Homo sapiens: one gene and its partner. The protein of the gene in region 2 interacts with the protein of the main gene of each other region in a pairwise test. Each region holds a gene or a part of one and is shown on either strand. Other genes may lie near its edges.

The links. The genes of interacting proteins can lie anywhere in the genome.
Region 1: the proteins of TARS1 (region 2) and C7orf25 interact in binary tests that used the Homo sapiens proteins (3 or more experiments, as listed by UniProt).

What each region holds. Positions count from the first base shown.
Region 1 is NC_000007.14:42,909,271-42,913,484, forward strand, and holds C7orf25 (UPF0415 protein C7orf25), read right to left. Parts: upstream 2,801-4,214; 5' UTR 2,645-2,800; intron 2,574-2,644; exon of another isoform or gene 2,198-2,573; intron 1,924-2,197; exon of another isoform or gene 1,791-1,923; coding exon of another isoform or gene 1,770-1,790; intron 1,652-1,769; coding exon of another isoform or gene 1,631-1,651; coding exon 365-1,630; 3' UTR 3-364; downstream 1-2.
Region 2 is NC_000005.10:33,454,465-33,457,964, reverse strand, and holds part of TARS1 (threonine--tRNA ligase 1, cytoplasmic), read right to left. Parts: intron 3,021-3,500; coding exon 2,899-3,020; intron 2,379-2,898; coding exon 2,261-2,378; intron 1,964-2,260; coding exon 1,899-1,963; intron 1,817-1,898; coding exon 1,738-1,816; intron 709-1,737; coding exon 562-708; intron 1-561. UniProt on the Homo sapiens protein: Catalyzes the attachment of threonine to tRNA(Thr) in a two-step reaction: threonine is first activated by ATP to form Thr-AMP and then transferred to the acceptor end of tRNA(Thr).

The DNA.
Region 1 (4,214 bases), on a different chromosome or scaffold from region 2:
GCTTGAATTTTCTCCAGATATTTAATGCAAGATGCAATGTAGCCATATTCCATGAAATGTGGTTAGCAGTAGGGGAGTTGTAGCCCTATCGAATCAAAGTATTACAATACAGCTGAAAGCTTTATATAGACGTATTTCGGTTCTTAATTGCACTAATGCAGACAGTTTGATAGATAAGCTTCTCTCTTGTGCTTTTTCTACTTTGGGAGGTTATATACTTTAGATGAGAGACAAAGAAACTCTACTGGTTTAAGAGTTCTCAGTTTTACTTTTACTATAGACCTTTTTTCCCACCAGTTTAGATGGGAAGACCCAGCCTTTGGTATAAATAACTTACTTCCACAAAAATATTTAAAGGGTATCTTTAGTGTTCACTGTCAGTTGTGTAGTCTTTTGGTAAGGGGGTGGCTAGAGCCTCTTTACTCTCAGTAAGTGCTCTGGGCTGATGGATAAACACACTAAATTTAACACCCTGGTTGTTTGCAGCTCTGACAAAACCACTATTAGCAGTCATTGTGATGGCTTTTAGGGTGTCTCCCGTCCCAAAAATTGTTAATGAGCGGCTATTAATTTTTGAACTGGCCACTAGTCTCAAGGCACGCTCAGAAGGCTGGTCTGGTACCACATTAATTCGCTTAATTAACACAGTGGCCCTCTCTCTCTCCCCAGGTCCTCCTAAGGTATCTAAAATAGACTGAAAGTCCTTGACAGCAGATTCACAAGCAAACAACTCCTTGTCCTTCATAAAGGCCTCCAGCTGAGGTAGAACCTGCTCTTTCCTCTCTTGCTCTGCTTGTTCTGTGAGCACTTTCTCTTTGAAAATAAAGTGGCAGCCTCCATAGCTGAGGGCAGATACATATGTGATTAAAGTAGTAATGTCCAGATTTACTCTTTTGCACACATCGACCTTAATTTCTGTTGGAAACGCAACACTTGCTAGTATATTTTCTCGGTCAACTCTGGTCACCTGCAAAAGTTCAGGGCCCTCATCATCTGATTCACTCTCACTTGGTTGAAGCTCTTCAGGGTGATCTAACAGAGCGTTGACTGCTACTATGTCTCCTCTCACAGATATGCCCATTTCTTTCAGCTTCTCTGCCATGGGGCTGGAGACACTGTTGTAAAATGCAAAGATGATGTGAGGGTTGCTATACTGCACTGGCTGCTGGTGACTGGCCTGGAGGAAGTCTTCAGCCTGCTCAATGATGCTTTTGTCACCATATTGGCCCCTGCCCAGCCAGATGTTATGAAGAGCTTCAGCCTTCCGGCCAATGGCTTTCACCCAAGTATGACCACCATTTGCAACTACATCTACCACAAGGGTTTGCTTTTCTCCTAAGGTATCTGTATAACCAAAGACATGAAGAACACTAACAACTTCTTCCAGGTTTTCTGCTGATTCCACAATGGCTCTCAGGTGTGTTAGGTTAGTGCTCTGTAAATGAGACTCTTTAATAGCTACTTTCCCAGCTTCTACTTTCTGCAAGAATTTTAATTCTGCCTTCAATTTGCTGCACAGCTTTGCACCACCTTCTATGCCACCTTTTCTTGATCTAGAAAGTGATTCTGCTCTCTTGATCAGTTCCTTGGCTATGGCGATTCGTTCACAGAGCATGGAATGTGCAGACATGCTGTCAGCATTATTCCTTTCCTAGGGAAAGAAACAAGGCAAACTTCAGTAGTCTCCTAAAATTATGACAATCAATTCTTCACTGGTGATTAAAAACTTCAATCTAGCAACACAGCTTATGGAGGGTGAGTCTATGAACCCGGGCTTGTGTATGTCTCATTCTGGAGTGACTGCTTCCTCTGATAGCTAAGGAAAGGATGGCAGCTACACTTTTGAACTCTTCTTTAGGTACGTCTGACACACTTTAGACCTTCATTTCTTCAGCTTGAAAGCCATGGGGACACAGCATGGTCCTAGGTTAGGATACAATGCAAGAGTTGGGCAATCTGCTATATAAATAATTCCCTTATGTCTATCAGCGGCCTGTTTAACTGCTGAGAAATTTTAATAAAGGCGACAAAAATGCCGAAAACAAAAATACACACAGACTGGCTAGTTAGCAAACTGTCCAAAGCAAGTGTCTGTCCTAAACTGAGCACTTCAGCCTCCCTAACCTTTTCCTCCTTCCCGAGTTGGTCTCCTTCAACCGGCTGCCTCATGATTTCCCCCGAGGCTTGGGGTACTTACGCCAAAAAAAATCAACACTGCCTCATTTCTGCATTTGACGTCAACCCAGACTATTTTAAAAGACCGAAGAAGACCACCAACTTGCGTCCCACTCCCACTCCGACTCTGAAGGAAAATCCGAAGATGAAACTAAACTCCAAGGCTGCAACCCGCGGCGGCCGTGCAAGCGGCCCCAGCGCAGGTCGCCGGGTGGGCGGGCCAGAGGCCGGCGGGGCCTTCTCGGTGGGCTGCGGGGCCCTCGGCCCTGCCCGGCCACCTGCACAGCCGGGCCCTGCCAGGAGGGGCCGGGGCCGAAAAGCCCCCACCGCCAGCGCCGCGGCTCAGGGACCAGGCGCTGATAGCGCGCGGCCGACCCCCTTCCCGCCGGGCCGGCCCTGCCCAGCCCCCTCTGGCCTCAGAAGAGGCGCCCCGCTCCCAGCCTCCCCGCCTCGCTCCCCGGCTCCTCACCGGCAGCGCCAGAACCGCGAGCGCGAGCACGCAGGCGCGTGCACGCAGAGGCCGGGACCCGCCGGGAAATCTCAACCGGGCAGCCCCCACCCCGCTCGAACGCCGAGGCGGCTCCACCCGCGCGAGCCCCGCCGCCTCGGGCACCTCCTGCATCACGTGGTTCCGGGCCGGGTGACGCCAAACCTGCGATTCCCAAGCGGCAGCGCGGCCTCCCGAGCCGGGTTGACGCTGGCGTGGCGGCCATGTTTATTGAGGGCACCTGGCTTCTCCCGCTTGCGCCGCCGGGTGAGCCTGAAGGCGCGCACCCACCTGGCTCCAGGAAGAGGGACCGAGCTCGCGTGCTGGGCCTCACTCCCACTGGGGGCGTCGGCCACTCGATCGCAACCGGGTCGTAGGCATTTTGGGGGCTCATTTTAACAGAAGAAACGCTGGAGAAGCTTGTCAGAGGTGACAGCTGAGAAGTACTGCCTCTGGGACTTCTGCCTCCAAGCCAAAGCACTTTCCACTGCATTGTCCTGGGCCCTCCAAAGAAAGTGTGCTGTCCTTCTGAAGAGAAGAAATGATTGCATGGCTTCCGAGGGGCTGCCATATTCATATTACTGTAGTAGAGTGTCCAGAGTCACCCAGAAAGATTAGGGCTGTAAGAAAGTAAAGCTAATTTAAAATATTAAAGAGGACTTCCAGTTATAATTAATCCTGTGTATCCTGCTCCTTCTCCAAACTTAACAGTAAAGCAATGCTCCTTCTCCAAATAACAGTAAAGCAATGACAAAGGGAACAAACAAAGGCAAAAAGAACAAGAGAAGAGATGACTGCAGACCGGTTATACCAACACATTTTTGGAGGACAAGAGCAATAACTTATTCAGTCCTTACAGCGTGACAGACATTGTTCTAAGTGTTTTACACATTGTTCACTCCTTTAAACAACCTAAAAGGTAGAGATATTAAGTATGCTTTACAGATAAGTGAGCCATAGGGAGGTTACCTGAACCCAAGCACCCTCTTTGCAGATGGTGTCAGGAGAACTGAGCAAACTGCTTGTAGAAGGGGATATTTAGCCACTGATTCACAAAGCAGAACCCCAGAAAGCTTCAGGTGCCTTGAAGGTAGAAGGGAGGGCAGTAAATTGTTCAGGCAGAAGACTAGTTTAAGATGCTAAAGACAGGGCATCAGAGGGATTCCAGACACAAAGCCTAACAAAGGATGAGAGGTGCCATGATGTTTTCCTACTGAATAGTGCAATGCTAGCAGCCCCCTTCTCTGCCCCTCCCATAATGCAGGCACCCCTCTACCGCTCCCTACCACTATCTCCCCATAACCCTATTTTTCTCTGAAGAAATGAGTAGACAAAAGACCCTAGAGAAATGGCTCGGCAATACCAACATTCAGCATCCCCTAGTGTGAGCCTCACGAACACAGCATTTCCCAACGTTTTTGTTATTTGAAGGAAATGGAAAACAGAACAAAATGGTCTCAAAAAGTATTCTATAACTAGCATCTTCAAATAAAAGATATTTCAGCTATGAAACAAGAGGATTTCTTTTTTTAAGGAGACAGCAGAGCACAGG
Region 2 (3,500 bases):
GGCTGCTACCTCCAGCTCAAGCTTCATAACCTAATAGCCAAGGACCCCTGGCACAGAGTGCCTATTTTAAGGGGGAATGTTTTATCTAGCCTAACTTCCAGTTTAGAGGACATTCAGCAGTAACAGAGATAATGGGTAGAGGAAATGATAGCACAGGATCCATGTGCGACATGCTGCTAAACCTTGGGCAACAAGTAGGTTAATCTTTGTGGGACTCTGTTTCCACATTTTAAATGAGTCAGTGAAACTAGAGGGTTTCCATAGTTCTCCCAGCTCTATGAGAAGCTGTTATACTTCTTTTACAGAAAACCGTAGATCATCAGTGTTTGCTCTCAATAAAAGTAGTTCAAATGCATTTTTGTGCGGTACTGAGCATACTCCAGGCAGATAATGTGGACAATCAGTAAGTGTTTATAGTTTGTACAGGACATAGCACCAGTTACTAAAAAGCCACAACATCTCTTCAAAACAAAATTCCTAGTACTTCATGCAGCTGAATTTCAAACTTCAAATGAAGTTGAAGAAAACTCAGTCAAGACACATCATTGTTCTTGAACATACCCTGCCAATTTTCCTATGATCTCGGTTTTTAGCTTCCTCTTGGAACTTCTCCCACTCTTTCAACATTTTAGGATCTGGGAATGAAATGCCATAAATTCTCTGGAGAGTCTCCATATCTGCTTTGCCTTCCCAGTACGTGGAGGAATTCTGAAAACAAGGATTAACCATGAAACAACATTCAAATTTGTAAACATCTCACTTATTTTAACTCCCAATTGCTTTGAGGCCTTGTTAGAGTAGTTACTCATTCTGCAGCACAAAGTTGGCTGTTTTCTATCCTCAAAAATGCCCCTCCCTCAATCTGCAGGTGGGTGCAGTGGCTCATGCCTGTAATCCCAGCACTCTGTGAAGCCGAGGCAAGAGGATTGCTTGAGCCTGGGAGTTCGAGACCAGCCTGGGAAACACAGGGAGACCCCATTCTTTATTTAAAAAAAAGAAAATTACCCAGGCATGGTGGTGTGCGCTTATGGTCGCAGCTACTCAGGAGGCTAAGGCAGGAGGACTGCTTGAGCCTGGAGTGCAGTGGCACGATCTCCATTCACTGCAACCTCATTTCCCAGGCTCAAGTGGTCCTCCACTCTGTCTTTTTGGGGCAACAGAGTGAGACCCATTCTACACCCCAATACCCCCAAAACTGCCCACCCCTCAATACTCAACCACAATTCCACAAACATTACTTTGCCTGCAAAGGCATTTCTCACAAAATGAGCAAAAATAGAAATGAGCCAATAAAAAAAAAATCTTGAAATGACTCAATTATTCTCTTGATTTAAAGTGCATTTTAAAAACCTCCATAAAATGTTTATGAACTAGTATAAAACTGGGTTCTGTTAAAAACAACAACTTGGGAAATTATTAATTTAGACATATAAAGGGCAAAAGCACATACTCCCAGTGAGTCTCAAAGCTTTTATAGAGCCAGGATGGCCCATGCTGTATGATTTTGTAAAATCTCCATCCCCTGTGATTGCTCTGGCAATGACAGCAAGTCAGTCACCCCTTGAGGGATTTCAATTATAAAATCCTGATGGCATACAGCTCCCAGTTAATAGAGAGCATGAGAAAATACCATCCTTTCATGTGCAACAGAAAATGGTAAAGAGAAATCAGTGAAAGTTTAAACATATATCTATTCTAGACAGATACATTCACAGTCTTTAAAGTTACATTACTTACTTTGTGTATTTTTAAAGCCTTAATTTTGCCCGTGTGTCTAACATGAGGACCCCGGCAGAGATCTATCAAAGGGCCACATCTAAAGATAAAATGAAAGGAATTTTAACAAAGACAAAATGACATACATACCAGATACATTTAATGACATCTAATATTCTTACCTATAGACTGTGGTAGTTGGAGTATTCACCTTTTCATTCAATATCCGGCATTTGAACTTGTTGTACTGAAAACAGGAAAAATTATTATTTTAAAAAACTGTCCTTTAATTTTTACTTCTAAGTACTATAGCTAAAACGTAGCACTGTATGAATATAAATGTTGATACTTCATGTTTTAAAAACATGTTGAAGGAATGGTTTGCTAGGAAAAAAATGAAATTAAAAAAATAATAAAAACACTTAATTTTTGCTAAAGAACCAATTAGACTTCAGCTTAGTACACGGAACGCCAGTGGTGTCACTTCAACTAACATGAATAAATGATATTAACAGTGGGGGCCACGCACTATGGTTCAATTTACCTTAAACATTGCCAGTAAAGTTTCTTTCTTAACTTCCAGTCTTTCAAAAGCTTGTTTTTCTTTAATGATTTTCTTACACAAAGCCTCCAGAGAAGAGAAATCATTGCTAGACACACCCCTGAAGGAGAAGAAAGTATAATCTTTTCATTCCATTCGAATCACACCATGGCTTCGAAAAATGTTCATTTGGAAATAGTATTTGGAATACTTCAAGGGTTTTAATATTAAAAAATTAGACTATTGCATCGTATCTTAGAATTCTAAACAAAACATTTTTCATAAGTAATTTTTACATTTTATATTTTCAGTAGCTTCTACCTTGGTCATCCATGGAGACCTTTCTCACTAGTGACCCCTTCCCGCAACTCTATCACCAGGTTTTAAAGGAGAGGGGAGGACCAGTCTCCCTGAATTTCCCAAAATACCTTAGGACTCTACCTCCATCAATCTAGAACAGAGGTCTCATCAAATCCTCTATTACTTCAGGTAAATTGCAACACTTCAAGTACTGATAATGGGCATACCTGATGAAGAAGCAGTGAGATCTATATCATTCCTCCCTTACTGAGAACTCTTAAGAATAACTTATGGATCCATAGTCATTGACTTCAGTTTTCTTTATCTAGTTGATGGCTTACCCTTCTTCGAGGTACATGTCATAATAGAATCCATTTTCTATTGGCGGACCGTAGCATAAACATCCACCATAGACTCTTTCCATGGCTTCACCCATTATGTGAGCACTAGAGTGCCAATACACCTGAAAATTTAAAGAAAAATGGCATGGTCTGAGTCTTGGCATACAAGTTGCCAATTAATGTGGTTGTCTGAAAGAGACAGATGATAATATTTACTACAAGTAAACCCAATATATAAAATCCTAAATTTCTAAATCTATAAACTACTGTTTCTATCCATAGCCAAAGTAATTCAAAAGGCTTCCAATTACTAGTGTATTTTTATTTTGGAAATCATCTGGTTTAGCTGTTTTCAAACAAATTAAACTAAACTTGGCATCACTAATTAAATGACATAGACTTTGTTCTCTGAAAACAACTGCTACTCACAATGTGACTAACTCATTGATTGCAATGGCCCAGGTTCTTTTGAGTCAATGTGCCCACAGCACCATGTCTCAGACACTGTGATCTGGCCTTTAGCTGGCTATGGAACATCACTTAGAAATTACATGTTGTTACTGGCCCAAAACAAAGGTGGTACAACCCGACCCCACAACACA